Linked DNA regions of Homo sapiens. The protein of the gene in region 1 purifies or fractionates together with the protein of each later gene. This does not show direct contact. Each region holds a gene or a part of one and is shown in the gene's direction. Other genes may lie near its edges.

Evidence for each region.
Region 2: the proteins of TM4SF20 (region 1) and ATP23 purify together in Homo sapiens (affinity purification with mass spectrometry; one large-scale study listed by BioGRID and IntAct). This does not show direct contact.

Annotation. Positions count from the first base shown.
Region 1 is NC_000002.12:227,362,107-227,365,931, reverse strand, and holds part of TM4SF20 (transmembrane 4 L6 family member 20), read left to right. Parts: intron 1-1,919; coding exon 1,920-2,208; 3' UTR 2,209-3,825. UniProt on the Homo sapiens protein: Polytopic transmembrane protein that inhibits regulated intramembrane proteolysis (RIP) of CREB3L1, inhibiting its activation and the induction of collagen synthesis.
Region 2 is NC_000012.12:57,947,898-57,951,722, forward strand, and holds part of ATP23 (mitochondrial inner membrane protease ATP23 homolog), read left to right. Parts: intron 1-2,816; exon of another isoform or gene 2,817-2,987; intron 2,988-3,825.

The DNA of each region.
Region 1 (3,825 bases):
CACATCAAAATGGAGGAATCATTAGATTTACAATGCTCTAAAAGGACTTTTAGATATTGTCTAAAAGGACTAGTTGATCTCAAATGGCTTATGCTTGTCTTTCAAAAATCTACAGTTACATATGTGTATGTATATTAAAAAATTATGCAAATATACACCAGAAACTTAACTTTCATCCTTGGAGAATGGAAATAGGGGATTCCCTTTATGAGAGTGAAGAGAACATTTACTTTCTACACTTCTGAACTAATTAAATTTGTCAACCATGAGCAAATATTACATTTACAATTTAAAAAATTTAATAAAAACACAATAAATAAAATGCAGAGCCTTGCCTGTAGGCTTAAATGGAAGAGCAACCAATGGATTCATACAGATATGCTATAAATATACTGTATGCATGGGAATGAATCCAAATTTTAAGTCATGTAATAACAAGTAATACTGGAGAGTTACATGTACTTAATAAGTGGCTCATTTTAGTCTTTTAAGTACATCATTCTGTGACTGAATCTAGACACAATTTGTAAAAACTGGAAGAAAAAAACTATCTAATCCATTACCTCTCTGTATAGCCTGCTCAGTTTAGCAAATAACCAGAATTTACTTTTGTAGTTACATACAAAAAATTTTTTCTCCTTTTCCCTTACCTTGCTACATTAAAAAAGAAAGTCCCTCAAATTTTGTGTAGCATATTTGTTTTGAACCAAAACCCAAGGAAGGCCAGGCACAGCGGCTCACGCCTGTAATCCCAGCACTTTGGGAGACCAAGGCAGGTGGATCGCTTGAGGTCAGGAGTTTGAGATCAGCCTGGTCAACATGGTGAAACTGCATCACTACTGAAAATACAAAAATGAGCCAGGCGTGGTGGCACGCGCCTCTAGTCCCAGCTACTCAGGAGGCTGAGGCGGGAGAATTGCTGGAACCCAGGAGGCGGAGGTTGCAGTGAGCCAAGATCAAGCCACTGCACTCCAGTCTGGGTGACAGAGTGAGACTGTGTCTCAAAAACAAAGCCAAGGAAAGTCTCCTTGCTAATAGACTTGAAGTAAAGGGTTAAAGATTTCTACCACAGATGCTATGCACATTAAATCCCCAGGGAATGACAACAGCCCACAATGTACCAGGCACCAGGCTACGCTCTGCAGACAACAGCGCTCAGATATTCTCAGCCTAGTTGCGGAGATGGGCTAGGCTAGCAAAGTTACAAGAGAGTGATCCTTGGCTTGCTACACATTTCACAAAACACTCATATTCCATGTGCTGAAAATACTGTTGTTTTCCCAGGTTGAATGTCAGTTGCTGATATCCAGCAATGCAAACTCCCTAAGAACATTCCATTTTACTCTACAGTAAACAAACAAAAAATCATCTTGAGATAGATGTATTAGGGCTAAAAGTTTCTCATTTTCCACAGCCCCGTTAAGAACAGGCACATCACTTTAATCAGACATATTTAATCAGTAAAAACTGTACATCTGGTTGAAGAACGGACGCCACGCTGTAGTTCTGCACTAAGAACTGAGCTCATTTAATGGGGGTGGCGGGGGGTAGGGGAGGCTCCTTAGTTTTTATATCTAGCAAGTAGAAGAGTATCTGAATAAATAAAATAAATAGGTTGAACCACGAAAAACTGTTGACATTCAACTATTTCTGACATCCCAAAACAGCAGTTTCATACCGTTCAACCTAAGAGAAGATGTACCATAGAGATGCTTGTTAAATGATGGGCTATATAAGTAATAAAAGTTTTGTAACTAGTAGAGTATATGGACACATGCTCAGAAACCCTGATCTCTGTCATTTCTGGGCACGATATTTCAAAAGTACATTCGTTTCACTCATTCTTTTATGTGCACAATGCTACTTTCCTTTGGTCAGGGATATTTCTGAATATCTGATTTTTATCTTTTGTTTTTCAGTGACATTCATCCAGAATCCTTCAACTTGCAGTGGTTTTTCAATGACTCTTGTGCACCTCCTACTGGTTTCAATAAACCCACCAGTAACGACACCATGGCGAGTGGCTGGAGAGCATCTAGTTTCCACTTCGATTCTGAAGAAAACAAACATAGGCTTATCCACTTCTCAGTATTTTTAGGTCTATTGCTTGTTGGAATTCTGGAGGTCCTGTTTGGGCTCAGTCAGATAGTCATCGGTTTCCTTGGCTGTCTGTGTGGAGTCTCTAAGCGAAGAAGTCAAATTGTGTAGTTTAATGGGAATAAAATGTAAGTATCAGTAGTTTGAATTAATTTGAGAAGTACACTTGTTTTCAAAGTCATCTTTGAGATGATTTAAAAAATCAACCCTTCACGTAGAAAGCACGTTGTAAATGCATAACACTCTCATATCAGTGGTTGATTTGGGAAAGGTGGAGAGAATTTTCAATTAGTTTTGTGTTGTACTATTCAAATTTTTTACCTCTTCACTGTGTGTAGAGAAAGGAGAAGGGAAGGAGGATGAGAAGGAACGGAAGTCATCCTGAAAATAAAAGTACAGGACTTTTTTTTTTTTTTTTTGAGACAGGGTCTCAAAAAAGGCTGGAGTACAGTAGTACAGTGGTGCTATCTCAGCTTACTGCAGCCTCAACCTCCTGGGCTCAGGTGATTCTCCCATCTCAGCCTCCCTAGTAGCTGGGACTACAGGTGCGTGCCACTATGCCAAGCTAATTTTTGTATTTTTAGTAGAGATGGGGGTTTTCCATATTGCCCAGGCTGGTCCCGAACTCATGGACTCAAGTGATCTGCCTGCCTCAGCCTCCTAAAGTGCTGCGATTACAGGCATGAGCCATCGCGCCTAAAGGACAGGACCTTTTTATTGTATTTCTTTAAAGAATAAATACATAACCTGAATGCAATCAAGTCTTTAGATCTAATTCTCAGCTTGCAGGGAACACTAGGACAAATCCAAAAAGTGGGTCAGCGGGCACAGAATGGCCCAATTTTCAACAGGAAAATGTTATAAAAGAAAAATATTTTTGAGGGAACTGTTATAGATTAAGAGAATAGAGGCATGTTTCAGCTAAACACATGTAAACTTTGTCAGAGATAATTGGGAGGAGTATGTAGAAGAATCGGATTATTGTTAATTTTGGTAGGTCTGATAATGGTTTTATAGTATAAAGGCTGAGTACCCCTTATCCAAAATGATTAAGATCAGAAGTGTTTTGGCTTTCACATTTTTTTGGATTTTGGAATTTTGCCTATAATAATGAGACATCTTGGGGATGGGATGCAAGTCTAACCACAAAATTCATTTATGTCTCATACACACTTTGAACACCTGGCCTGAAGGTAATTTCACACAATATTTTAAATAACTTTGTGCATGAAACACAATTTTGACTGCATTTTGACTGCAACTCATCACATGAGGTCAGGTATGGAATTTTCCACTTGTGGTGTTACGTTACTGGCTCAAAAAGTTTTGGATCTCGGAGCATTCTGGATTTTGAATTTTTGGATTAGTGATGCTCAACCTGTATACAGAAATGTCCTCATTTTTAAAAAAAGAAATGCATATTTATATGTTTTAAAATTACTTCAACCAAAAGCAACGGGGAGATGTTTACTGTTATATTTAGGTGACAGGTACATGGCAATTCATTATACCCTCCTATTTTCCTATGTTTACATTATTCATTAATTAAAAAACAATACCTAGAAAAACCCAAGACTTTCAAAAGCTATTTTCTATATGTGCCAATCTTTAAAAAACAGGATAACAAGGGTATTTATCACATTAAAATGTTGTAAAACAGCAAAGCTAAAAATCTAAAATTTTCTGAATGTTATTTCTATATTTCAATTGTTTATGTTCATTGGGCTT
Region 2 (3,825 bases), on another chromosome or scaffold:
CATACTTAACTACACTTAACTGTTTCCTGCTGGATAATTTTGTATGTATTTAGGTTATTTATAGCATTTTTACAGTAATCATGTGAAGTGGCAATATAGAACAAGGATGAGAAGTCTAGATTTTGGAGTCAGACTTGAGTTCAAATCCTAGTTTCCTTGCTTATTATCTGTGGGGCTTGGGCAAGTTATTTTTCTTCTTCTCAGTTTCCTCATTTGTAAACTGGTAATCACAATACCTATAGCTCTCAAAATGGCTCTGGATAAGTTCACTCCCTTCTCGGTCCCCCCAGGGTTAAACAGAGTGCACATCTTGAACTTTCATCCTAATTCTCAGCAGTGTTGAACACAGTTGGGCACCCTCTCCTTTTATTTTATTATTATTTTTTAAATTATTATTATTTTTGAGACAGAGTCTTACTCTGTCACCCAGGCTGGAATGCAGTGGTGCAATATGGGCTCACTGCAACCTCTGCCTCCTGGGTTCAAGTGATTCTCCTGCCTCAGCCTCCTGAGTAGCTGGGATTGCAGGCATGTGCCACCATGCCCAGCTAATTTTTGTATTTTTAGTAGAGTCAGGGTTTCACCATATTGGCCAGGCTGGTCTTGAACCCCTGACCTCAGGTGATCCACCCATCTTGGCCTCCCAAACTGCTAGGATTACAGGCGTGAGCCACTGTGCCTGGCCTATTTTTTTAAATGAAAATTTTTATTATGAAGTATCTCATTCATACAGAAGAGTAAAACATCTATATGTACACTTTCAGTAATAATAAAGTGCACACCTATGTAACCACCACCCAGACTAGAGAAAAAGAACATTACTAGGACTTCAGAAGCCTTCGTGGTCCTCTTGAATCAGGTCCTTTTCCCTTCCTTATCCTGACTTTTGTGGTAACCATTCCCTGCTTTTCTGAATGGCTTTACCATCTACATATACAATCCAACAGTGTGTTATTTAGTTGCCTGCTTTTGAGCTTTATACATGTTATACTTTGAATTTTATGTAGCATTTTGTAGTATTATGAAATTGTACAGTATATAGTCTCCAATTACTTTCCACCTTCAGCATTTGTGAGATTCTTTCTTGTTGTTGTGTGTACCTCTCTGGTTTATTTCGTTTCCCTGTTATATGGTATTTATTCCGTTGTGTGTTTATACTATAGTTTACTCTAATATTGATTGTTTCCAACTTTGTTATTATGAACAATGCTGCTATGAATATTTTTGACCTTCGCTACTGGTGCACATGTGCAAGAGTTTCTCTAAGGTATATGCTCAAGAGCAGAATTACTGGGTCATATAGTTTGTATACACTTGACTTCAGCTGTTAATGCCAAACACTTTCTTTGGTTTCTAGTATACAGCACTCTTCTGGTTGCTCCTTTGCTAGCTTACCTTCCTCTACTAGCATTTAAATGTCAAAGTCCCTCAATCCTTGGTCATAGAGCCCCTTCTTTTCTTACTCTGCCAAGGAGGTCTCATCAATTTTCTGGGGTCAAAGCTCACTTTTAAGAACTCCACATTCCATATATCCAAGTGCCCATTTAACACCTCTACTTGAGCATCTTTTTATTTATTTATTTATTTTTATTTTTAAGGAAAAAAAGTTTTTTTGGGACAGGGTCTTGCTCTGTCGCCTAGGCTGGAGTGCAGTGGCGCAATCATGGCTCACTACAGCCTTGAACTCCTGGGCTCAAGCAATCCTCCCATCTCAGCCTCCTGAGTAGTTGGGACTACAGGAGTGCATCACTGGACCCAGCTAACTTTTAAAATTTTTTGTAGAGATGAGGTCTCACTATGTTGCCCAGGCTGGTCTTAAACTCCTGGCCTCAAATGATCCTTCCATTTCAGCCTCCCAAAGTGCTGGGATTACAAGTGAGAGCCACTGCTCCCCACCTACTTAAGGGTCTTAAGGACACTTCAGACTTGAAATGTGTAAGTCCAAATTCATGATTTTTACCATCCCCCATCTCCCCACTCAACCCAGTCTTTTAGTTTTGCATATCTCAGTGGATGGTGCTACCATCGACCCTATTAGCCAAGCCAGAAATTTATGGATCATCTTTGATACCCCTGATTCCTTCCCCGTATTCTATCAACATATTTTGTCTAATTTACCTCCTAAATAACTCTTTTGGCTTCCACCACCATTCTAGCTGAAGTGCTGTTCTCTCTTGCCTAGAATATTAGCCTTCAGCTAATTTCTCTGCATCCAGTTTTGGCCATCTCCTGCCTATTCTTCCAACTATAGTTAAAAGGATAAAAGCAAAATAAAACAAAAGCAGTCTTCTGTTTCAACATTCCCTTTATCCTGAGAGCTTCCCATTGCTCTTAGGGTAAAGACAAGGTCTTCAGGGATTTGGCCCCCCGACCTCACCAGCCGTATCTGTTGCCTACCACCCCCACCGCTGTGCTTCAACTCTAGGGCTCTCCTTTTAGCTTCTCAAGCATTTTCTTCCGTCAACCCTCCCTCTACGCTTTGCATAGGTTTTTCTCTCTGCCTAGAATACTCCCTTCCCCTCCACACCTCAAATTTCACTTCTATTCCTCCATTAGATACCAGTTTAACCATTCCTTCCACAGAGAAACCTTCCCCCACCTCCAGAGTAGGTCAGGCATTCTTTCTTTTTCTTTTTTTTTTTTTTGACACAGGGTCTCCCTTTCTTGCCCAGGCTGGAGTTCAGTGGCGTGTTCCTGGCTCACTGCAGCACCAACCTCCTGGGCTCAAGTGATCCTCCTACCTCAGCCTTCCAAGTAGCTGGGACTATAGGCATGTGCCACCATGCCTGGCTAATTTTTATTTTATTTTTTTATAGAGATGGGGTTTTGCTCTGTTGCCCAGGCTGGTCCCGAACTCCTGGGCTCAAGGAATCTGCCTGCCTCAGCCTCTCAAAGTACTGGGATTATAGGCATGAGCCACTGCACCCAACCTCATTGTATATGCTCATGACAACCTGGGTTTTTCTTCATGACAACTGTCATTGCATGTATGTAAACATTTTGGTAAATATTTGGTTAGTTTCTATCTCCATCAGTAGATTATAATCTATTATTAGGTCTCAATAAGTATTAGTTGAATCAATGGATGTTGAATGAATGTATATAAATATCTGGCACATATCCCAGTGTCTGGCAGTAGTACACAATCAATGGCAGCTATTACTATTAGGATCCCTTGTGTCTTTCTTATTCTTATAGGGTCCTGCTCAGTGTGCTGTTGTGTTTTGCACTTCTTTCTGAAGGTCTTTCTGATGAGTTTTCCCTGGCATTTGCCCTCATTCTAGTAAAATGAGGACAGTGGTGGTCATTCCTTTTTCATTCAATGCTCATTCAGAAACTTGATAAGAAGTATTTTACATATATTCTCATTTAATTCTCACAGTTCTATGAGGTAGCTACCCTAATTATCTCCTTTTTATAGTTGAGGAAATTGAGGTACAGAGAGATTAAGAAACTTGCCTAAGGTCACTGAGTTAGTAAGGGGTGGAGCTGGAATTTGAATCTGTGTGCTTCATTCCAAAGCCCACTCTCTTAACCATAATGCTGTGGAGTCCGAGACAGACTAGTACGATCAGCCCAGTAAGGATGGTGTGTGAATACGTGTCCTTAATCTAAGTACTGCTGTAGTCCAGAGAGAGGAGAAGGGAGAAGTTAGTCACTGGGCGAGGCAATTGGAGCATGTACACTTAGGACTAGGACTTGTCCCATGGGTAGATGTGTGGCCAATGAAGAAGAGTGGGTAGAGATATTCCAGGCAGGTGAGCTTGTGGGGGAGAGGTGAGGTCATGTGGGAGAGAAGATCGAGTCTATGGAAGGAGATTTTAG